Homo sapiens: one gene and its partners. The protein of the gene in region 1 purifies or fractionates together with the protein of each later gene. This does not show direct contact. Each region holds a gene or a part of one and is shown in the gene's direction. Other genes may lie near its edges.

What was found.
Region 2: the proteins of LIPA (region 1) and NAA15 fractionate together in Homo sapiens (co-fractionation; one large-scale study listed by BioGRID). This does not show direct contact.
Region 3: the proteins of LIPA (region 1) and ITPK1 fractionate together in Homo sapiens (co-fractionation; one large-scale study listed by BioGRID). This does not show direct contact.
Region 4: the proteins of LIPA (region 1) and NAE1 fractionate together in Homo sapiens (co-fractionation; one large-scale study listed by BioGRID). This does not show direct contact.
Region 5: the proteins of LIPA (region 1) and GAL3ST2 purify together in Homo sapiens (affinity purification with mass spectrometry; one large-scale study listed by BioGRID and IntAct). This does not show direct contact.
Region 6: the proteins of LIPA (region 1) and KIAA1217 fractionate together in Homo sapiens (co-fractionation; one large-scale study listed by BioGRID). This does not show direct contact.

What each region holds. Positions count from the first base shown.
Region 1 is NC_000010.11:89,231,276-89,234,775, reverse strand, and holds part of LIPA (lysosomal acid lipase/cholesteryl ester hydrolase isoform 1 precursor), read left to right. Parts: intron 1-3,500. UniProt on the Homo sapiens protein: Catalyzes the deacylation of cholesteryl ester core lipids of endocytosed low density lipoproteins to generate free fatty acids and cholesterol.
Region 2 is NC_000004.12:139,339,505-139,343,004, forward strand, and holds part of NAA15 (N-alpha-acetyltransferase 15, NatA auxiliary subunit), read left to right. Parts: intron 1-1,407; coding exon 1,408-1,565; intron 1,566-3,321; coding exon 3,322-3,456; intron 3,457-3,500. UniProt on the Homo sapiens protein: Auxillary subunit of N-terminal acetyltransferase complexes which display alpha (N-terminal) acetyltransferase (NAT) activity. The NAT activity may be important for vascular, hematopoietic and neuronal growth and development.
Region 3 is NC_000014.9:92,937,926-92,941,425, reverse strand, and holds part of ITPK1 (inositol-tetrakisphosphate 1-kinase), read left to right. Parts: 3' UTR 1-2,899; coding exon of another isoform or gene 2,900-2,943; 3' UTR 2,944-3,500. UniProt on the Homo sapiens protein: Kinase that can phosphorylate various inositol polyphosphate such as Ins(3,4,5,6)P4 or Ins(1,3,4)P3. Phosphorylates Ins(3,4,5,6)P4 at position 1 to form Ins(1,3,4,5,6)P5.
Region 4 is NC_000016.10:66,813,977-66,817,476, reverse strand, and holds part of NAE1 (NEDD8-activating enzyme E1 regulatory subunit), read left to right. Parts: coding exon 1-52; intron 53-448; coding exon 449-512; intron 513-804; coding exon 805-896; intron 897-3,500. UniProt on the Homo sapiens protein: Regulatory subunit of the dimeric UBA3-NAE1 E1 enzyme. E1 activates NEDD8 by first adenylating its C-terminal glycine residue with ATP, thereafter linking this residue to the side chain of the catalytic cysteine, yielding a NEDD8-UBA3 thioester and free AMP.
Region 5 is NC_000002.12:241,775,444-241,779,621, forward strand, and holds the start of GAL3ST2 (galactose-3-O-sulfotransferase 2), read left to right. Parts: upstream 1-1,378; 5' UTR 1,379-1,512; coding exon 1,513-1,541; intron 1,542-4,178. UniProt on the Homo sapiens protein: Transfers a sulfate group to the hydroxyl group at C3 of non-reducing beta-galactosyl residues. Acts both on type 1 (Gal-beta-1,3-GlcNAc) and type 2 (Gal-beta-1,4-GlcNAc) chains with similar efficiency.
Region 6 is NC_000010.11:24,541,138-24,544,637, forward strand, and holds part of KIAA1217 (sickle tail protein homolog), read left to right. Parts: intron 1-1,555; coding exon 1,556-1,633; intron 1,634-1,745; coding exon 1,746-3,344; intron 3,345-3,500. UniProt on the Homo sapiens protein: Required for normal development of intervertebral disks.

The sequences.
Region 1 (3,500 bases):
CTGAAATAGTTCACTGGAAGATGTGAACAGCAATAGGTTTTACCTTCCCAGAGAGAAACATCCTTTGCCAGTCAATCCTTAAATCCTTCTTTGGTGGTGGGATGGGAAAGAACCACATTGTACCTTCCTTTCTTCCCCCTGGTGGGAGCAGGTGAGAGAAGCTGGCAACAGTTGGCTGGGCCTGCTTCCAGCGTCCAGTCTTTTCCATTCCCTTTTGTATTCACCCAATGCCAGAGGGAAGGGGCAAGAGGTTTGGAAGCCATTTTTAAAGGTTTTTCACCCGAGGATTCGATACTATTTTCTTTGCTGAGGATCCGTCATGCCTAATGGAACTGCCATCTCTAGAAGTTCAGTAAGTTATATCCTCTGCATCTCCCTCCTCAGAAGAGACTTTTTTGTTCTGGGATGAAAGGAAACTGGCCCAGCCTGGAAAGATGTGCACCCCATGAAGTCCTTCCTATTCCCTGTGTCCCCAGGTCAGACAAGGCACTGGACTTTTCCTAGTGGTTCCCCAGCCTGGCTGCGCGTCAGAATCAGGCAGGGAGGCTTTCATGTGCACACTGGTCCCATCTGGCCAAGGCCTGGGTGCAGTGTCAGCTCTTTATTCATCTGGCTCCTATGTTTTCTCCAGAACCCTTTGTGGAAACATCTGTCTCTTACTTAGAATCCAGGTCAAATGTTTGTCCCACTGGCCAAGTAACTTTCTCCTTCTTCTGGGACTTCCTGAGTGGTGTTCTAGCCTTCTTCTTGCTGGGTTAGACAGTCATCGTGTGTCTGACTCCCTCGAGGATGGAGCTCCCTGTGGGAGGGAGTGTGGGTTACCCATCTTTGCATTCCTAGCATCTATTAGTTTGGGGCAAAAGTAATTGTGGTTTTTGCCATTGCTTTTTTATTTTGTGGGGGGTGGGGGTAAATGGAATCCCTCTCTGTCACCCAGGCTAGAGTCCAGTGGTGCGATCTTGGCTGACCACAACTTCTACCTCTTGGGTTCAAACAATTCTCCTGCCTCAGCCTCCTGAGTAACTGGGATTACAGGCACCCACCACGAGGGTTTCACCATGCTGGCCAGGCTGGCCTCAAACTCTTGACCTCAGGTGATCCACCCGCCTCGGCCTCCCAAAATGCTGGGATTACAGGCGTGAGCCACCGTGCCCGGCCTGCCATTGCTTTTTAAGGGCAAAAACCACAATGACTTTTGCAACAACCTAATAGCAGTGGCTGGTACTCAGTAGGCACCACTAAAGGTTTGCACGAAACGTAATGTATGTTTTCAAATCACTTCTTGATATTTTACCTTCTAGTGCACTGCTTAAGATACAGCAGATTTCCATTAAAAACTTTTCACCTGAATGTGGAGGACACAGCTGAGTGGCCTCCATTCTCTAAAGCCATGCCATTTGTCAGACGTTTACCTTTCTTCATCAGCCCTTTTCCTCATCTGCCAGCATTTCCCATGAGAAAACAGTGTGGTCTGCAGTACCCTTTGCAGTGCTTGGCCCAGATTCTCCAGATTTGAAAACATTTAGCTTGTAAAGAATAGATTCACTGTTTCCTTCCCATCTGCTGCATCTTTTGTGCCTGTTGTTCATTGAGCTTTTGTATTCAGCTTGAAGTAGGGGATGGAAGAACCCTAACAAACAAAAAAGGACAATTAGAAAAATAGTGTCTTTGACTTATTCTCTGGAAGCCTCCTTCAAAGGATAAAGTAATTCCCTGAGAAAAGCGTTGTGCAGGTGTGAATTCGGTCTGGGTGGAACAAGGGTATTTACCGATGTTCTTAGAAGCTGCACAGCCACCTTAGGCGTGGTCTCCTGGGTAGCACATGCTCCAGCTGTCCACAGGCCATTCCTTTCTTCACACTCACCTCCCAGGAAAACTGCAGCAGCTCCTCATTGCCCTTGGGAATCCAGGAGTTATTTATTGGGGATGTTTAAAGACTTTCCTGATGTATCTTCAACTTGTCAGCTTCCACATTTCCCCATTCAAAGCTCTAGAGGTTACAGAGGGAAGTACAGAGACTTTAGGGAAATTTTAAACATTCTCCATCGAGAGAAGGTGGGGAGCTGAGTCCTGGTCCCATGTGCTGGCCAACATCTCCCCTTCCAGCCTCTGTCCTGGCCTGGCTGCCACATATCACCCTCCTTCTCCTCTCTCAATTATCCTTGCCCCAGGGCCCTCTTTGGTTTCAAACCATTCCTGCCTTTCTCTGGACACTCTCCCCTGAGGAGTAGACTAGGCAGTCCCATGTTTTCCGTGTTAACTACAGAGGCACAGATTGGAACAAGTGCCAAGGAATTAGGCCACCTACCGAGCCTTCCTCTTGCCTCTCTCTGACTCTCCATCCTGAGGGAAGACGATTGCAGTCGTTTTTGTTGGAAATGACCTGACCTGTGGGAGCAGCCCGTTCCTGGCCTTTCAAAGTCAAGTCACCTTACTCATGGCCTAGCTCCTGATCACTCCTGGTGGGTGAAAAGTGCCTCAACATACCTAAAGAGCTGTGACATGAGCAGGAAAGCCCCTCTTTCTAGAAAGTGTTGGGCACCATCAGTACAGCAGAGCCACTGCATCGTACAGCGCCCGGTCACCATTCTCACGTACAGTTACCATGAGATGATGATGGTGCCTGTAGTTACACATTTTTCAACTATAATTTAATGATAAATTAATTTTGGTAATTATAATTGTCACTTACACTGCAGTTTATAATTTTGGATTTTTAATGATCAATTTTCATATTTTCCCAGCTGGATTATCATCCTCTTCATTGAAGCCAAGAAGCCTGTGCATAAGACGCTGTATCTACCACAATGCCTTCCACTTACATTTTTCGTAGTAAATTTAGTCTTGTTAATATTGCATTAAAATGAACCTTTGAAGGCAAAGATGAGCACATAAAGCAGCCCTAATCTTGTCCAGTTTGCTTTCTATTTTCTCCCCATGGGTAGAAGTTCACCTGCATGGCCCTGGCATTTCTATTTTGTGATTAGAAAATCACACCAGCCATACATGATGTTTCACTTCTGTAATCCCCGCACTTTGAGAGGCCAAGGCGAGAGAATCACTTGAGGCCAGGAGTTTGAGACCAGCCTGGGCAACATAGTAAGACCTCATCTCTATGAAAAGTTTTTTAAAAAATTGGCTGGATGTTGTGGTACACACCTGTAATCCCAGTTCTTCAGGGGCCTGAGGTGGGAGGATCACTTGAGTCCAGGAGTTTGAGGCTGCAGTGAGCAGTCATGCCACTGCACTCCAGTCTAGGTGATAGAATGAGACCTTTTCTCTCTTAAAAAAAAAAAAGTTATGGGAATCATTTTATACTCTTGGCCTGGGGTCCTGCTATTTTAACAACACGAGGGTATAGCACCCCCAGGTTGTACAACTCCAGGGAGTACCATGTATATTTTCATGTATGTGAGCAGTGCCTTCCGGAGTAGTCTACGGAAGCTACCTTGCAGCAGAACTGTCATTTAAAAACAATTTGCTAGTTATCAAATCTATAT
Region 2 (3,500 bases), on another chromosome or scaffold:
CGCAATAATTAGGAGGCGGGCGGATCACGAGATCAGGAGATCAAGACCATCCTGGCCAACATGGTGAAACCCTGTCTCTACTAAAAATACAAAAATTATAGCTGGGCGTGGTGGCAGACGCTTGTAATCCCAGCTACTTGGGAGGCTGAGGCAGGAGAGTTGCTTGAACCTGGGAGGCAGAGGTTGCAGTGAGCTGAGATCATGCCACTGCACTCTAGCCTGGTGACAGAGCGAGACTCCATCTCAAAAACAAACAAACAACAACAACAACAACAAAAAACAACAAAACCCAATTACTTTGGTAGGAGAATAAAAGAAGACAGACTGAAGATAGGTGGGTTGGGTAGCTGGTACAGTAATCAAGATCTAAAGTGAAAAAGGGCTGTATTTGGGAAGTGGAATATTCTCCTCCTTGATAGCAGTTTTTACAACCTACTTTAATTTTGCTTATTTATCTGTCCTTTACTAGACTTTAAGATCTTTTAATATAGGAGGCTATTTTGATGACCTACGTCTTAGTTATTAAGAAGTTTTAGGCTGGGTTTGGGAGCTTATGCCTGTAATCCCCGCACTTTGGGAGGCCAAGGCAGGTGTATTGCTTGGGCTCAGGAGTTTGAGACCATCTTGGGCAACATGGCGAGATCCCATCTCTACCAAAAATAGAAAAAAATAGCTGGCATGCTGGTGTGTGCCTGTAGTCGCAGCTACTCAGGAGGCTGAGGTGGGAGTATCACTTGAGTGCAGGGAGTGGAGGTTGCAGTGAGCAAAGACCACACCACGACACTCCAGACTGGGTGACAGAGCAATACCTGTCTCAAAAAAAGGGAAAGAAGTTTTAATAATTACGGTTAAATGAATGAATGTTTTTATTTTATATGTGGCTGAGTTTTAGAAACTTTGTATTACACTAAGGGTTGTCCTAAGAATCTTGTTAGTTCAAGAAAATAAAATCTTCATGACTTTACATAACTGGATTCCATGAAGACCCATTCCTTCTTTTTCCTTTTACTATTAATAATATAGTAACTGTTTACATATATATATATTGACTTTGTGCCAGCCAGTGAGCACTTTATATATGTTATCCCATTTAGTTGTCAGTAGTATGATTTGCTGCATAGACTATTTGTTTACATTTTAGTAATGAGGAAACTTAATGAGACTGATTTGTCCAAGGTTACAGAGCTGATAAGGTAGGCAAGACCTAATTTTCTCTGGCTGCAAAAGCTGTGCTCTTTTCCACTGTATTAAACTGCTTTATATCTTTGAAATCAATCTCCCCCTCCCCTTCCCCTTCTTTTTAAGCTTGTAGTTTTATAAATGGCTGTGGTTCTCCAAGTTTTTTGGGAGGTCGTTTGGAATAGTAATTTTTGACTTGTAGGTTGTACCCTTAACTAAATTCTTTAGGTTGGCACGTTTATGGCCTTCTTCAGAGGTCAGACAAGAAGTATGATGAAGCCATTAAGTGTTACAGAAATGCACTAAAATGGGATAAAGACAATCTTCAAATCTTAAGGGACCTTTCCTTACTACAGATTCAAATGCGAGATCTTGAGGGTTACAGGGTAAGTAAAATAGAGACTTTTTTTTTTAATTCTAAGGGGAAAATATGTACAACTTTGAGTACTTTCAGATACATAAATTTTTTATTTCATTTTGAAAATAATTTAATTGAATTTTTTTTTCCTCCTACCACAGTGGTTATGTTTATGATTGGAATAATCAGATCTTTAAAAATAAATTATTTTATGGTGAGGCAGATTTGGCCTACTGTGTAGGGTTGACTTAATTTGATAAAAATTAACATCAGGCCAGGTGCGGTGGCTCACGCCTGTAGTCCCAGCACTTTGGGAGGCCCAGGTGGGTGAATCATGAGGTCAGGAGATCGAGACCATCCTGCCTAACACAGTGAAACCCCATCTCTACTAAAAATACAAAAAATTAGCTAGGCGTGGTGGCAGGTGCCTGTAGTCTAGCTACTCAGGAGGCTGAGGCAGGAGAATGGCCTGAACCCGGGAGGTGGAGCTTGCAGTGAGCCAAGATCACGCCACTGCACTCCGGCCTGGGTAACAGAGCGAAACTCTGTCTCAAAAAAAAAAAAAAAAAAAAAAAAAAGAAAATCAGTACTCCTCAAATAAACAATGCCTTTGTCTAGTATTGACATGTAACTCTAACATTTACTTCCCACATTTTTCTGGAAAGCAAAACAAAAAAAAAATTTTTTTTTTCTTGGAGACATTAGAGTCTCACTCTGTTGCCCAGGCTGGAGTGCAGTGGCATGATCTTGGCTCACTGCAGCTTCCACCTCCTGGGTTCAAGCAGTTCTCATGCCTCAGCCTCCTGAGTAGCTGGGGCTACAGACATGTGCCACCATGCCCAGCTCATTTTTTATATTCTAATAGAGATGAGGTTTCACCATGTTGCTCAGGCTGGTCTTGAACTCCTGAGCTCAGGCAGTCCACCCCACCTTATTCTCCCAAAGTGCTAGGATTACGGGCATGAGCTGCTGCACCTGGCAAAAACAAATGTTTTGTTTCTTCTTTCTACCTCCACTGACTCTAATATATTTTTGTAGCTTCGATTTTAACCCTTAAATTAGTGTTAGATCTATTTAGTTCCTCTTTCATATTCTTTCCTCTTTATGTATGTTAACTCTGTAGTTGGACACTTAATTTTTAAAAACATTTTTGAATATTTTTCCTTTGTGCTGTTCTTTCCATCCTGCCTCTTTTCTGGGACTGAGCAGATCAAGAAATAAAGAAGGGTCTTAAGTTTGGTCTTAAGTTTTAAAAACTTAAATCTGGTCTTAAGTTTTAAAAAAATTCTAAGATTAGCTTGGAGGCTTCATTATGTTCTTAACAAATATTTCTTTGCCTCCATAAAGCTACACAATATGGATGTTTGAAGTATTTTCTATTATTGTTCCCATCATTGTGTTGTAAAATGCTTGGGGTTGTGGGATAAATTAATGTGTGTTTTTTTTTTTTTTTTTTGAGACGGCGTCTTGCTCTGTTGCCAGGCTGCAACCTCTGCCTCCCGGGTTCAAGTGATTCTCCCGCCTCAGCCTCCTGAGTAGCTGGGACCACAGGCGTGCACCACCATGCCCAGTTAATTTTTGTATTTTTGATAGAGACGGGGTTTCACCATGTTGGCCAGGATGGTCTCGATCTCTTGACCTCGTGATCCACCCGCCTTAGCCTCCCAAAGTGCTGGGATTACAGGCGTGAGCCACTGCGCCTGGCCTAATATGGAGATCTTTTAAAGGAGCACTTGCTGTTACTAAAAGCCTAAGAAAAAGTGTTTATTTTTTTCCTTTTAAAGGAAACGAGGTATCAGTTACTTCAGCTTCGACCTGCGCAGAGAGCATCATGGATTGGTTATGCTATTGCTTACCATTTATTAGAAGATTATGAAATGGCAGCAAAGATTTTAGAAGAATTTAGGAAAACACAACAGGTAATAACTAGAAGCCATTTTACTAAGTCTGATCCTAAGTATAA
Region 3 (3,500 bases), on another chromosome or scaffold:
TCTGATGTCATGATCTAAATGAGGGGTAGTGGGGGATGGAAGAGAGTACCAGGTGGTCCACCGTTGGGGAGTGGGGCCGTCCGCCTGCTCTCTACTGTGCAGACCTCCTAACTGAGTTTACACACGCTTGTGTTTGCAACACTAGGTCTGGATGGGAGGTGAGGGGTGTGCGTATGGCTGCCATGCCAGTGTCTGTGCACATCCCTGTCTGTTGGTCTCCATGGCCACTGTGGACCGGGACCCTTGGGGGAAGCCTGCCCATGTCGGGCTGTGGGAGGCTGATCGGTGCATGTGAGAGTGGCTTCCCTTCTGCCTGACTCCCCACTCCCTGACCTGCCCCTTCCTTGTTTTTCCTCCTACTGGTCTCCACCAAGGCTTTGTTAGCCCCCACCCTGCCTGGTGTGCAGCTAACCCCTCCCTCCCCACAGCCAGAGGAGGCCACAGACCCCTCAGGGGAGTTCCGCGCTGGGGTCTGGGCTGTGCTCCCTCACTAAAGGGAAGGAAAGGAAGCTGGGCGTCCTCTGGGCCCCCCAACACACGTCCCATTTAGCCCTGCACAGCGGTCTCCTTCCCCTAAGCCAGCACTGCTGCTCCCTGGAGCCCGGGAAGGAGGCTGCCTGGCTGGAGGCCCGAGCCGATGGCGCCTGTGCTGAGGATTTGTGCTGTGATTTGGGCAAATCATTCCAGGTCTTTGGGCCTCCACCCCCTTGTCTCTAGTGGACATTTGAGATCAGAGAGCACCACAGGGCTGGCTTTGTGCCCTAACCCCTGGGATGCAGCCTGCCTTTCCATAAAGTCACCTAGGTGAGGATAGGCGCGGGAGCCTCGGCATGACACCATGGAGATCGGGGCCCTCTTCCCAGTGGGTTCACTCCTTTTCACACCTGCTGGGTCCCTCCTCACCCAGCAGGCCTGGTCCACCTCTCATTGCAAGCCCCAAGCACTGAGCCAGCAGGTGCCAGGGAGCCACCCGCCCCCCATCGCTTCTGCACACCTCAGACTCACCCCATCACCTTGGCAGCAAAGCACTGGCTCTGCCGTCTGACCCCTGATCCAGGCAGCCCCCTCTGCAGAGAAAAGGGTTGGGGAGAAGCCTCTGCAGTCCTGGAAGATGTGGGGTGCTGGGTGAGAGGCATCAGCCCCCACAAGTATGTTTTTGTGTCTTAAGATAGCAGTTTACTTTGAAAAAGTGAAAAAGGCTTCCGGGCTGTCCTCTGCCCAGTGAGATGGAGGACGCTAGAGAAAGTGCTGAGTGTCCCGAGAGAGGCCCCCGAGCCAGTGCATGGAGGTCCTTCGGCCTGGCTCAGCTGGGCTGCAGGATGCCCACTTTGAGGAGGGAGGCACAGGGCTTGGGCGAGGGGCAGAGGCCATCAGAACTGCCCGGCTTTTTTGGAAACTGAGGACCCAACAACTAACCACGTTTACACGACTTGAGTTTTGAACCCCGATTAATGTCTGTACGTCACCTTTCCTAGTTCTGACCCTGAGCCCTGGGGAACAGGAAAGCGTGGCTGGCCTCTTGCACTGCTTTGTCTCCAAAATAAACTACTGAAATCAAACCGCATTTCACACGTGTTTACACATGTTGCTCAAGTTTGTTATGTCATACTCCCAGTCCTTAAAAGACGTTTAATAAAACAGCTTTACCTTTTAAAAATAAAATTTCAATCCCAGTCTGCCTCAGGTACGGGTGGGGGTGTGCAGCGTGACTCCTGGCTGTGTTCCTGTACCGTTTGTGGCCTCCGGGGTCTTGCGCGTCCAGGGCCCAGATACCGAGTAACTGCCATGTGGTGTCGTGGTGGCGTCCATAGGCCTCCGTGGTGGGGCGGGGGCGGGGCTGTGGGTGTGCAGGGCAGCTGCATTTTCCAAGAGTGGAGATGGAGGATGGAGATTTGCTTCGTAAAGGCCTGGGAGCTACATGGGAGGTAGGGAGGGGCCAGCCACACCCAGGGCTGGGGGGCCGGTGGACTCTGCCCAGTGAAGCCAGGGGAGTGTCAGCAATGAGGGGCCTGGACAGCGACGCGGGACCCGCACCTGGGAGCGGCAGAGATGGAGCCCAGCTCGCTAAACGTACCCTAAGGGTGCACGCTGACCATCTTTGATCCCTGGACAGTGTCCATAGAGTTGTCTCCCCTTCGGTCACATTGTCCCTGGCCTTGGAGTTTCTGCCTCAGGGAAAGACCCACTAAAACCACCCGGGCTCTGGCGGCCTCCTCTTCTCCAGAGCATGGTGGCGCTGCCTCCTGAGCAGAGTCACTGAGAGTGTCTGGGTCCAAGGAAGGGACCCACTTAGCAAAGGTTGTTGTGTGGTGCTGTGCAGGCACGGCGCCTGGAGTTGGCCCCGCCAGCATCGGGGTGGCTTGGGGCTCTGGTTCCTAAGCTTCTGCTTCTGAGTTGGTCAGCACGTTGGCTCTGCGCCCTGCAGTGCCTGTCTTGATGGTGGTCCCTGGATGTGCTGAAGGGCTCCAGGAGCAAGGGGCCAGACCACACTTTGGCTGAGTCCTTGGGTAGTTTCAGAGGGTCACCTGCACAGTCTGCATTGAGCACCCTGGGGCTGAGGCCGTGGGTCAAGTTCTGCCTGACAGTGCTTTGATTATATGGTGATGTGATTCTGCAAACATAACCCCCCAACTGAGTGCCAGCTGCTGGGTGTCCCCACCCCAAGAGCCAAGGGGAGGCCACCCTGGAACTGGTGCTTTGCCCTTGGTGTCATGGAGGTGTCTGGGTCCACACGTGGTGGGTGGGCTGGGCCTGCAGTCACCCAGCATGGCCGGCGGGATTGGACCCAGCTGCAACCTGGCAGGTTCCATGGGGCTTCCTGTGCCTGGGCCTGCCTGTGTCTCATGCCTGTCAATAAAGGAGAAAGCAACCTGGGAAAAACATTCCTCTCTGTACCCAGGGGACTGCCAAGTGTGCTTTATAGAAGGCTGGAAGACCGACTGAAGTAGGAAGCTGTCACATGTTTGAGCCAACTGAGCAAAGCAGCTGTTGCCTGCCAGACAGCCACCCCAAGACCAAGGGAGCCAGCCTGTCGTTTGTCCTTCTAGCCTGGAAGACCAGTTCTTGGCTCTTGGGCACTCACATTGGCCACTGGCCACAACTGCTGAATGGCTTCACTAATGTCCCTGGGGTCTGTATCTGCCCTCTCTTCTATTCCCTAGAAACTCTGGCCGGGCATGGCGGCTCACGCCTGTCATCCCAGCACTTAGGGAGGCTGAGGCAGGTGGATCACAAGGTCAAGAGATCGACACCATCCTGGCCAACATGGTGAAACCCCATCTCTACTAAAAATACAAAAATTAGCTGGACATGGTGGTGGGCGCCTGTAGTCCCAGCTACTTGGGAGGCTGAGGCAGGAGAATTGCTTGAACTCGGGAGGCGTAGGTTGCAGTGAGCCAAGATCGCACCACTGCACTCCAGCCTGGCAACAGAGCAAGACTCCTCAAAAAACAAACAAACAAACAAACAAACTCTGATCATTCACCCGGTGGGATCCCCGG
Region 4 (3,500 bases), on another chromosome or scaffold:
TACTCCATGGATTGTGATCATAGCTAAATATTTAGCACAGTGGTATAGTGAAGTATGTCCTTTTTTAAAAAAAATTTCATATGCAACTGTATTTTCAGTTTCTTACAAAGGATTTCCTTGATGGGGAATGGGAGATTAATTTTTTTTCCTTATGGAGTTGTATGGTAGGGCAAATGGATGCTTTTAAATTTAAATCTAGCAGTTCCTCTTTTGATCCTGATAATTTTAATTAAAATGAAATTCAATAAATGTCATTATGAAACTGGCAGGGGGAATGAATGTAGATAAATGGTCACAGTGTCTGTTTTCTATCAAGTGAGCCTCTGATTTCACAGAGAAATATATTTGTTGATGAAATCTTATGTAGAGAATGGGGGACACTTTAGACTTTCAATTTCTGTATTTTGAATTTTAATAACTAGATTTTTAAAATTTTTAACCAATTTAGACAAATGGACGAATACCTAAAACGTATAAAGAAAAAGAGGACTTCAGAGATTTGATTAGACAAGGTAATATGGGATATGATTAAATACTGTATAAAGCTTGAAAAGCAAATTGCTAGAGGCAGGTACTTATTGGATTTCTGTTAACACCTTTGTCAGATGATAGCATCATGAGCTTTTATTTTCCTTCTGGAGAAGTTAAGAAGCCACGCCTTGTATAGTTTTAAGGACTAATGATAAGCCGTATTTCTTCTTAAGATTTAATATTCTGCAGGATCTGACAAGGTTATTTTTATAATGGGGGAACAGAAGAGTGAAAAGAAAAGGGCTGTTTGCTAACAATTTCCCATTACAATAGGAATTCTAAAAAATGAAAATGGGGCTCCAGAAGATGAAGAGAATTTTGAAGAAGCTATTAAAAATGTGAACACAGCACTAAATACAACTCAGGTAATGAAAGAGTTGCTGAGGGATTCACATGAACAAGATGTTTTCTAGAGTCCTTGGCTATTAAATGGTTGACTATAATGATTTAAGTTAATATTTTCTAAATGTATAGTTAGAAATAAATACAGGGCCGGGCATGCTGGCTCATCCCAGCACTTTGGGAGGCTGAGGCGGGTGGATCACCTGAGGTCAGGAGTTCGAGACCAGCCTGGCCAACATAGTGAAACCGCGTCTCTACTAAAAATACAAAAATTAGCTGGGCATGGTGAACATACCTGTAATCCCAGCTATTCGGGAGGCTGAGGCAGGAGAATCACTTGAACCCAGGAGGCAGAGGTTATAGTGAGCCAAGATTACACCACTGCACTCCAGCCTGGGCAACAGAGTAAGACTCCGCCTCAGATGCCTTTGGTTTTGTTATGGCTTAGTTGTTGAGGTCTGACCATTGAAGTTTTTGGGGAGCTTTGGAATAACACCTGGTAGTTTAAGTTAGAATTTTCTTGTAACTTAAAACAGCAAATATGCTGCCTTTCAAGTTAGGAAGGCACGTAAGATATTATTACCAACTTTTTAGAGACAACAAGGCAGTGTTGCTGAGTGATTAAAAGTGTGCTGGCTGGGGCCAGGCGCGGTGGCTCACACCTGTAATCCCAACACTTTTGGGAGGCCGAGGAGGGCAGATCACATGAAGTCAGGAGTCCAAGACGAGCCTGGCCAACATGGTGAAACCCCATCTCTATTAAAAATACAAAAAATTAGCTGGGCATGGTGGTGGGCACCTGTAATCCCAGCTGCTTGGGAGGCTGAGGCAGGAGAACCGCTTGAACCTGGGAGGTGGAGATTGCAGTGAGCTGAGATCTCATCAGTGTACTCCAGCCTGGGCAACAAGAGCGAGACTCTGTCTCAAAAAAAAAAAAAAAAGTGTTTGCTGGCCAGGTGTGGTGGCTCACACCTGTAATCCCAACACTTTGGGAGGCCAGGGCAGAAAGATTGCTTGAGCCCAGTTCAAGACCAGCCTGGACAACGTAGGGAGATCTTGTCTCTACAAAAAATTTAAAAATTAGATGGGTGTGGTGGCATGCACCTGTAGTCTCAGCTACTCTGGAGCCTAAGGTAGTGGGAGGATCGCTTGAGCCTGGGAGGTTGAGGCTGCAGTGAGCCATGATTGTGCCACTGCACTGCAGCCTGGGCAATGATATGAGACCCTGTGTCCAAAAAATAAATGTGCTTTGTGAATCACTTTTCTGGGGTGATGAACATTTTCTGTTTTAATTGGGGTTATGGTTAAAAATATGTATATATAGTTATCAAAATGCATTGAATTGGACATTTGAAATCTCTGTATTTCACTGAATATAAAACCACAGTTGAAAAGAAAAGATTCTAATAGTTGGGGGGCAGTAAGCTAAATAAACAGATAAAAATGCACCAGGTGCTGTGAACAAAATTACAGCAGAACAAAGGGTCAGAGAGCATGCTGGGGACAAGGGAATCCGGGGTTGAGAGACAATTGTACATAGGGAGCCAGGGAGACTTTCCAAAAGACATTTAAGCAGAAGCCTGAGTGAAGTGACACGCAGAGGTCTGGTGGAAGAGCTTTTCAGTTGGAGGGAGCACATGTGCAAAGGCCCAGAAGTGGGATGAAGCTTGACTTTTGTTCAAGCATCAGTAAGCAAGTCAGTGTGATTGGAGTGAAGTGTAAAAGGGGGAAAAGTGGTAGGAAGGATTTGAGTTTGGAGAGGCAGAAAGGGCCAGATCATAAAGGCCTTGCAGGCTATTTAAGCATTTCAGTCAGGGAAGTGGATTGAGCTGCTTTGTATTCTAAAAGACCATTCTGGCTTTCATGAGGAGAACACAATTGAGGGGACTGGGAGTGGAAGCAGAGAGAGCAGTTAGGAGGTCCCACTGAGACATTTCTTTTTTCCACCCATCAGTAGAATCCAAGCCTATGATTTGTGTGTGTGTGTGTGTGTATTTTTTTTTTTTTTTTTGAGACAGGGTCTCACATTGGTGCCCAGGGTAGAATGCAGTGACACAATCACTGCTCACTGCAGCCTTGACCTCCTGGGCTCAAGTGATCCCCCCACCTCAGCCTCCCAAGTAGCTGGGACCACAGGCACGTGCCACCACGCGCAGCTAATTTACTTTTATGTTTTCTATAGACGGGGTCTTCCTGTTTTGTTCAGGTTGGTCTCAAACTCCTGGGCTCAAATGACCCTCTCACCTTGGCCTCCTGAATGCTGGGATTATAGATATGAGCCATTGTGCTCAGCTTTATACTCTTGATTAACGTATGAAGATCTTGCTAGCAATAAAATTACTTTATGGTTTTAGTTTTTTTCAGAGTGGTTGTCTCAACGGTCACTAATTAGGGTGCAAGGGTTTCAGATTTTTGACAAGATGGAAAATCATGATATACTGCGAGTCTATAATCTGTTTTGTCTTCAGATGTAACTATATAAAATAATTTACTGGGGCCCCTTCTTTACCCCATTTATGGTATAAGAGAATAGGTATTAAATGGTAGCAACAGTGGGCCGGAGAGGTCTTTCTTCCATTCTTTCCCCATCAAATCTTCATATGGTACTGATTCTAAATAAAATTATA
Region 5 (4,178 bases), on another chromosome or scaffold:
TGGGGTAAGGACCCATGAGGCGCCATCTTCTTTGTTCCTAGGCTGAGCCTGTGGTGCCCTGGGCAGGGTGGGTGGAGGAAGCAGCAGGGAGGCTCCTTAATGGTGGAGTGAACACCCACACGGATGTCTCTGGATAGTGGAATGCGGAGGATGCAGGGCACGCCGGTGGAGAGCTGCCCAGCCGTGCCAGCAAGGCCCCGGCATCCCTCCCACCTGCCGTTAGCACCGGGAGCTGCTCTGCTGGCCCCTCCCACAGACTCGGGCTCTGGAGGTCTACAGAGCAGCTGGGAGGGTGATGCCTAGGCGGGGGCGGAGATGCCAGGCCCCTGGGCTGCAGGTGGAGGTAAATGGGGAAGGGAGGCTGGGGGTCTCTGGGCCTTTCGCCAGCAGCCGCCCAGCCCAGGGTCTCTGATGCCAGGGAGGTCCATGTGTGCTCGGCCCCTCCTCTGAGCCCCTCAGCCCAGCCTTGTTTCTGCCTCCATGGCTATGGGGCCTGCACCCATCCGAGCCAGGCACTGGCTAGGGCAGGGAGGCTGCCTTGGGCTGGGGCCAGTCCCGGAATCCAGGCTCAGCTGGCACCGACAGGGAGGGGTTGTGGGAAGGTGACCAGCCGTGTGGAGAGCTTGGCGTCGGAGGGCATGGTGGGCACCAGCGCTGGTGGGATGTGGCGAGGGTGGTGGTGACTCATGGCGCGTGGCCCGTAGCTCTGAGGAGCATTTGCGTTTTCCTGTGGATTCACTGTAGCGCCTGGTCACAATGTTGCAGCATTTCCCTGGCTGCTTGTCTCGGAATTAATATCTATTTCCTGAAAAGAGAAATGAACTTTCTTGCAGTAAAATCTAAACAAATATTTATATTTATTTTCCACCTCCATGTCCTGTTTCAAACTTATTGTCCAGCCCAAGATTTTAAAAAGTCAGATTTTCTTTTGGTGTGAAGCAGGCTCAGGAGGAGGAGGAGGGGGAGGAAGAAGAGGAGGACGAGGAGGGGGAGGAAGCTGGGAATTGGGCTGAGCTTTCCTCGCTCATCCTTGCAGTGGCCACAGGGCCCTCTGCCCTCTCGTCTGCGTCAGGTCCTGAGTTCTGAGTCCAGAAGCCGTCGCTGTGCTGTTGGAGCCCACCAAGCCCGTCCCTTGTGGGGACAGCTCCCTCCAAGCCCCCCGGGGGGATGGACACTGAGGGTGGGGCAGGGGAGCAGGGGTAGGCCCCAGGCAGGTCCTCCCAGGGCCTGGGGAACACAGGGGCCCATCGAGGGCTCCCCAGACTCCCTCAGCCAGTTCTTCCCGAGAACAGAACAGTTAAAACCAAGCCCTCCGATGGAGGTGCGGGGAGAGGGCGTGGCTCCCGTCCCAGGAGGCAGGTGAGCTTCTGGGGATTCCAGTTCACCTGCCCCACAGCCGCACCCTGCCTGTGCCTGCACCCTGGGGAGCCCAGAGCCGGCAGGGGCCGAGGCGGTGGGACCTCGGGGGAGCTCAAGCCTCGACTGTCCCCTCGCTGGAGGCCAGAGGCCAAGATGATGTCCATGCTGGGCGGCTTGCAGAGGTAAGGGGGGCAGTTGGACCCCCCAGGTGGACAAAGCGCTTCATCTGTGGCTATTCTGAGAGACGGACAGGAGTGGGTTTTGTTTGTCTTTCGAAGGAAGTGACTTGGATTTGGAGGCTGTTCCTACTCAGGCTTCCCTGAATTCACCTGTCTTGGCTTCGTTTCGGAAGTAGGGGGCCCCTCCTGCCCAGGCCTGGTGCTGCTTCTGGGTGTTTGGGGGTTCTGGGATGTGGGGCCCAGTGAGAAAGCTGCCCCCCAACACTGTGGCGTGGAGACGCTCGAGTGTCCGCGTGACGGCTGGGGAGGGTGAGACCTGCTGGGCTTGGGACCTCCCAGCCTCGGTCTGCGGCTCAGGCCCATGGCTGGGCCGTGTTGGTGGGAGTGCCAGGCGCTTGCTGGAGCGTTGGTCATGCGTGCGCTTCAGGATGCTCCCGGGGCTCTGGGTGGTGACGGGGAGGCTGGGCTCTGCTGTGCTGTCTCCCTTCTGTAAACAGAGGGGAGGTGGATTTCTTCCCAGTTAGGTTTGGAGGGGTGGTGGGTGTGGCTAAGGATGCCTTGCGTTTTCCTTCTCCTGCTCGCCATCCTGTTTGGGGTGATTCCAGGGCAGTTTGAAGCCGTCCCTGCGCTGGCAGGTCCCTGCCTCCCCGGGGCGTGTGCCGCCATGAATTCAGTTACCTTCCTTTAAGGGGTGACTTAAGACCAGCTGCCAGGACACTGGCTGAGGACACCCCGTCACAGGGCTGAGAGGTGTGGGGCCGGCTGCCTGGCCTGGACCATCCTAGATGCCCCCTCCTGTGGACATTGTGACCATATTGTGAAGAAGAGGCCCAGGGGCTGGGGAATCAGGCTCACTTGATTAGCTGGTGGCCAAGCTAGGGCCCCCCTGGCTGCCCTGGGGCCCCCCGAGGTCGGCCAGGGCGGGTGTGCCTGACCCCAGCTGAGACTCTGTGGGTGAGACATGGGAGGCATTGCAGCCGAAGGCCCTCGGGGAGCCCAGGGCACAGGCTCCTCAGCTGCTGGTCTCACTGCCTGGCAGGATGGGCTCACTGCAGCAGCCCATGCAGGCTGCACGTCCCACACTAAGGCCAGGGAGCTTTGGCTCCGGGTGTCCCAGGCTTCATTGAGCACGGCCTGCAGGAGGGAAGCCCCGAGTCACTTCCCCACAGCCCTGGACAGCAGCCTTCCTGAGCCTCGCATTTATTTTCCTGGGGTTGGGCAAGTGTGGGAGGCTCACCTCGCTTGTGTCAGCTTGCTTGGCCTGTGGGTGGAACAAATCAACAGCCCTGGGGACAAAGGGGACGGTAGTGTGTGGTGCCACTGGCACCCACCTGGGTGATTCAAGGAGCTGCCCAGAACAGAGGAGAGACTTTGCCTGCGCTAGTGAGGCCTAGTCTTGACCACCGGCCACGGGAAATCCAGGCCGCCGGGCAAAGTGCTCACTTGGATGCTTGCTGATCTTTTGTTTTGCTGGTGATGATTCAGGCACAAAACTCTGAGCTATGGCACTTGGGGGTGTTGCCTCCCTGGGGTGTGGCCAGGTATCTTTGGGGAGGAGGGGACTCATGATCAGAGAAGATGTGGTACAGAGCCCATGGGGGTCACCATGCCGGTGTGAACCCCCAAAATCTGAGACAGGTCTCGGTTAATTTAGAAAGCTTACTTTGCCAAGGGTGAGGACGTGCACCCATGACCCAGCCTCAGGAGGTCCTGATGACGTGTGCCCAAGGTGGTCAGGGCACAGTCTGGCTTTATACATTGTAGGGAGACATGAGACATCAGTCCGCATATGCAGGACGAACATTGGTTCGGTCTGGAGAGGCAGGACGGCTCGAAGCAAAGGCAGGAAGACTCCAAGTGGGGAGGGGACTTCCAGGTCACAGGCAGGTAAGAGACAAATGGTTGCATTCTTTTGAGTTTCTGATGAGCCTCTCCAAAGGAGGCAGTCAGATACGCATTTATCTCAGTGAGCAGAGGGGAGACTTTGAATACAATGGGGGGCAGGTTTGCCCTGAGCAGTTCCCAGCTAGACTCCTCCCTTTAGCTTGTAGTGATCTGGGGGCTCAAGATCTTTTCCTTTCACATTTCCCCCCATTTTCTCTTTAAAATCTTGGAGAAAGCTCTCCAAGATTTTAGAAGAAAATGAGTCTCTGGTCCCAGGTTTTGTCTTATCTCTCATGGCTAGGATAGTTTATTTCTAGACGGGCAGGTCCTGAGTTACTAGGAAAGCTCATTTTTTTTTTTTTTTTTTTTTTTTTTTTTTTTTTTTTGAGACGGAGTCTCGCTCTCTCTCCCAGTCTGGAGTGCAGTGGAGCGATCTCGGCTCACTGCAAGCTCCGCCTCCCGGGTTCACGCCATTCTCCCGCCTCAGCCTCCCGAGTAGCTGGGACTACAGGCGCCCGCCACCTCGCCCAGCTAATTTTTTGTATTTTTAGTAGAGATGGGGTTTCACCGTGTTAGCCAGGATGGTCTCCATCTCCTGACCTCGTGATCCGCCGGCCTTGGCCTCCCAAAGTGCTGGGATTACAGGCGTGAGCCACCGTGCCCGGCCCTGGGAAGTTCATTTTTTAGCAGGTTGTGAAGTGTCAAGTCCTAGGAAGACAAAATAGGAGAAGGAAGGAGAAAAACAACAACAAAGAA
Region 6 (3,500 bases), about 65 Mb from region 1:
TCCTAGACTCAAGCAATCCTCCTGCCTCAGCCTCCCGAGTAGCTGGGATTACAGGAAGCTCAATTATTTTTCTTCTTTAAAACCTTTTACTTGACGTATTCATTGTTTCATATTTTAAATTTAAAATCCCACAAAAGAAGCCATGTGGCTCCGCTGCAGCAGCCGAATCATGGCACTTGTTTGGGGGCTTCCTGGGGAGCAAGCAGAAGTAAAACAGGAGGTATTTGGTGGCTCGTGTACCTTGTACTTTGCACAGTATTTGCGTGTGATTAATTCTGACTGCGTTGTTTGTGTGTCATTCCTCAGGCGTGTATGAACAGTCTTTCCATTCTTAAGTAAGGTCATAGGGGTTGCTCTGGGTTGACTTTGGCTGGGCCCGGGTGTTTGTGCTTTGTGTTGTCATTGCTTTAACCAAGCAGCCTTCATGGGAATTGTGCTCCATCCTGCTATAATCAATCACCTCAGCATGAAGAAAGGGCAGCAGTGCCTTGGAACCGACAAGGCATCACTAGTGTTAGTGTTATGTCAGGGCCTGAGGCTACTGATACACCTTGGGAAAGGCCAGGCCTCCAGGTGAAGCGCCTTGAATACCTGGGTCCTCACCACTGGATCCTTCACTCCTGAATCTTGGTGAGACCCTAAGACATGTATCTTCAGTCTACACTGGAAAATATAGAGAATGAAAGCTGAGTCGTGACGTCACCGTCACCAATGTAACCTCAAATATCTGCTTTGTGAATGTTTAGGTTCTATTGTAACAGCATGATGGATATGAACCAAGGTTCTATTGTAACAGCATGATGGATATGAATTGAGGTTATATTGTAACAGCATGATCACTCTGAATTTGGATTTGGTCATCGTGGCTATGAGGAGTGTGAAGGTTATTTTGGCACTTCGACACCTGCAGTACAAACTGCATTTCAATCTGTCATTTGATCAGGGGAAAATAATGTTTTTTCGTCCCCAAATGCCAAACCCAACCAAGGCAGATGTCTTTATAGGATAATCTCCATAACAGAAGCAGAGGGAGGACTGAAATAATGAGCTGTAAGGGGAACTAAAATTCCCCTGGGCTGGTTCCTAAGTTTATAGGCAAGAAAACTGAGGCCAAAGAAGTAAAGTGACTTATCTAAAGTAACACAGTTTAGTGGCAGATCTTGATTAGGATCAAAACTTTCTGTCAGCCCATACATTGTGCTTTTCACAATTCTTCAGGTTTTAAATTCTGCTAAGCTCACAATCTGATGTTGAAAAGAGGACATGTTAGTAATGACTCTGTCCCTTTATTTTCTTCACCACTCCCCTACAAAATTTTAAATTCTTGAAATCTTTTGCTAATTGAGATTTTCATCTTGTGCAAACACAGGGCATTTTTGGCAGTTGGAGAACAAAGCAATCCAAGGTAAACAGCTGTAGGCTTTGGATTGGTGTGTAAGAAATATGCGTGGCCCGCATGTCTTAGAAATGTAATTAAAGGAACGATTTAGTTATAGTCCACTTTTTTGGGGGGATGTGGTTTTGTGGAGTAACATGTCCTACACTATTCTACCAGAATTTGGAATTTTTCCATGAAGATGTACGGAAATCTGATGTTGAATATGAAAATGGCCCCCAAATGGAATTCCAAAAGGTGAGTTCACCAGATCTGGGTTCCGACCAATACCATGCACATTAAGTACCTGCCTCTGCAGATCCATTGCTGATTAACGTGTGTGGTTTCCCTCCTCCGTTCTCCCTCTCAGGTTACCACAGGGGCTGTAAGACCTAGTGACCCTCCTAAGTGGGAAAGAGGAATGGAGAATAGTATTTCTGATGCATCAAGAACATCAGAATATAAAACTGAGATCATAATGAAGGAAAATTCCATATCCAATATGAGTTTACTCAGAGACAGTAGAAACTATTCCCAGGAAACTGTGCCTAAGGCCAGTTTCGGTTTCTCTGGCATTAGTCCATTAGAAGATGAAATAAACAAAGGGTCTAAAATCTCAGGCCTGCAATACTCTATACCTGACACCGAGAACCAGACGCTGAATTACGGAAAGACAAAGGAGATGGAAAAGCAAAATACGGATAAGTGTCACGTTTCCTCTCACACTAGACTAACAGAATCAAGCGTGCATGATTTTAAAACAGAAGATCAAGAGGTTATCACGACAGATTTTGGCCAAGTTGTTCTAAGACCCAAGGAGGCAAGGCATGCTAACGTGAACCCTAATGAGGATGGAGAATCAAGTTCAAGTTCTCCCACTGAAGAAAATGCAGCCACTGACAATATTGCCTTCATGATTACCGAAACCACTGTCCAGGTTCTTTCCAGTGGGGAGGTGCATGATATTGTTAGCCAAAAGGGAGAAGACATACAGACGGTTAATATCGATGCCAGAAAAGAGATGACCCCCCGACAAGAAGGGACTGACAATGAGGATCCAGTCGTGTGCCTGGACAAGAAACCAGTGATCATCATTTTCGATGAGCCCATGGACATCCGGTCTGCCTATAAGAGACTTTCAACTATCTTTGAGGAATGTGATGAGGAATTAGAGAGAATGATGATGGAGGAAAAGATAGAGGAGGAGGAAGAGGAGGAAAATGGGGATTCTGTAGTCCAGAATAATAACACTTCCCAGATGTCTCATAAGAAGGTGGCCCCAGGCAATCTTAGAACCGGACAACAGGTGGAAACAAAGTCACAGCCACACTCCCTGGCCACAGAGACCAGAAACCCAGGAGGACAGGAAATGAACAGAACGGAGCTGAACAAGTTCAGCCACGTGGATTCTCCAAATTCGGAATGCAAGGGTGAGGACGCGACCGATGACCAGTTTGAAAGCCCCAAGAAAAAGTTTAAATTCAAATTCCCTAAGAAGCAACTCGCCGCTCTCACTCAAGCCATTCGCACCGGAACTAAAACAGGGAAGAAGACTTTGCAAGTGGTAGTCTATGAAGAAGAGGAAGAGGATGGCACCCTGAAACAGCACAAAGAAGCCAAGCGCTTCGAAATCGCTAGGTCTCAACCTGAAGACACCCCTGAAAACACAGTGAGGAGGCAAGAGCAGCCCAGCATCGAGAGTACATCTCCGATTTCAAGAACTGATGAAATTAGAAAAAACACCTACAGAACATTGGATAGCCTGGAGCAGACCATTAAACAGCTCGAAAATACAATCAGTGAAATGAGTCCCAAAGCCCTAGTTGATACCTCATGTTCTTCCAACAGAGATTCTGTTGCAAGTTCATCCCACATAGCCCAAGAGGCCTCTCCCCGACCCTTGCTAGTTCCGGATGAAGGTCCCACTGCCCTAGAGCCCCCTACGTCGATACCTTCAGCTTCACGTAAGGTATCTTGGTCTGCTGGAAAATGAAAAGACCCAGCTGCTTTCCTAAATCTGCCATAATCACCATTAGTGAAAGGTGTCTTGTAACTTAATTGCTTTCTTTCAGGTGGCTTTTTTTTTTTTGTCTGTTCGCCATGAAACCCTTCTTTCATACTTTCT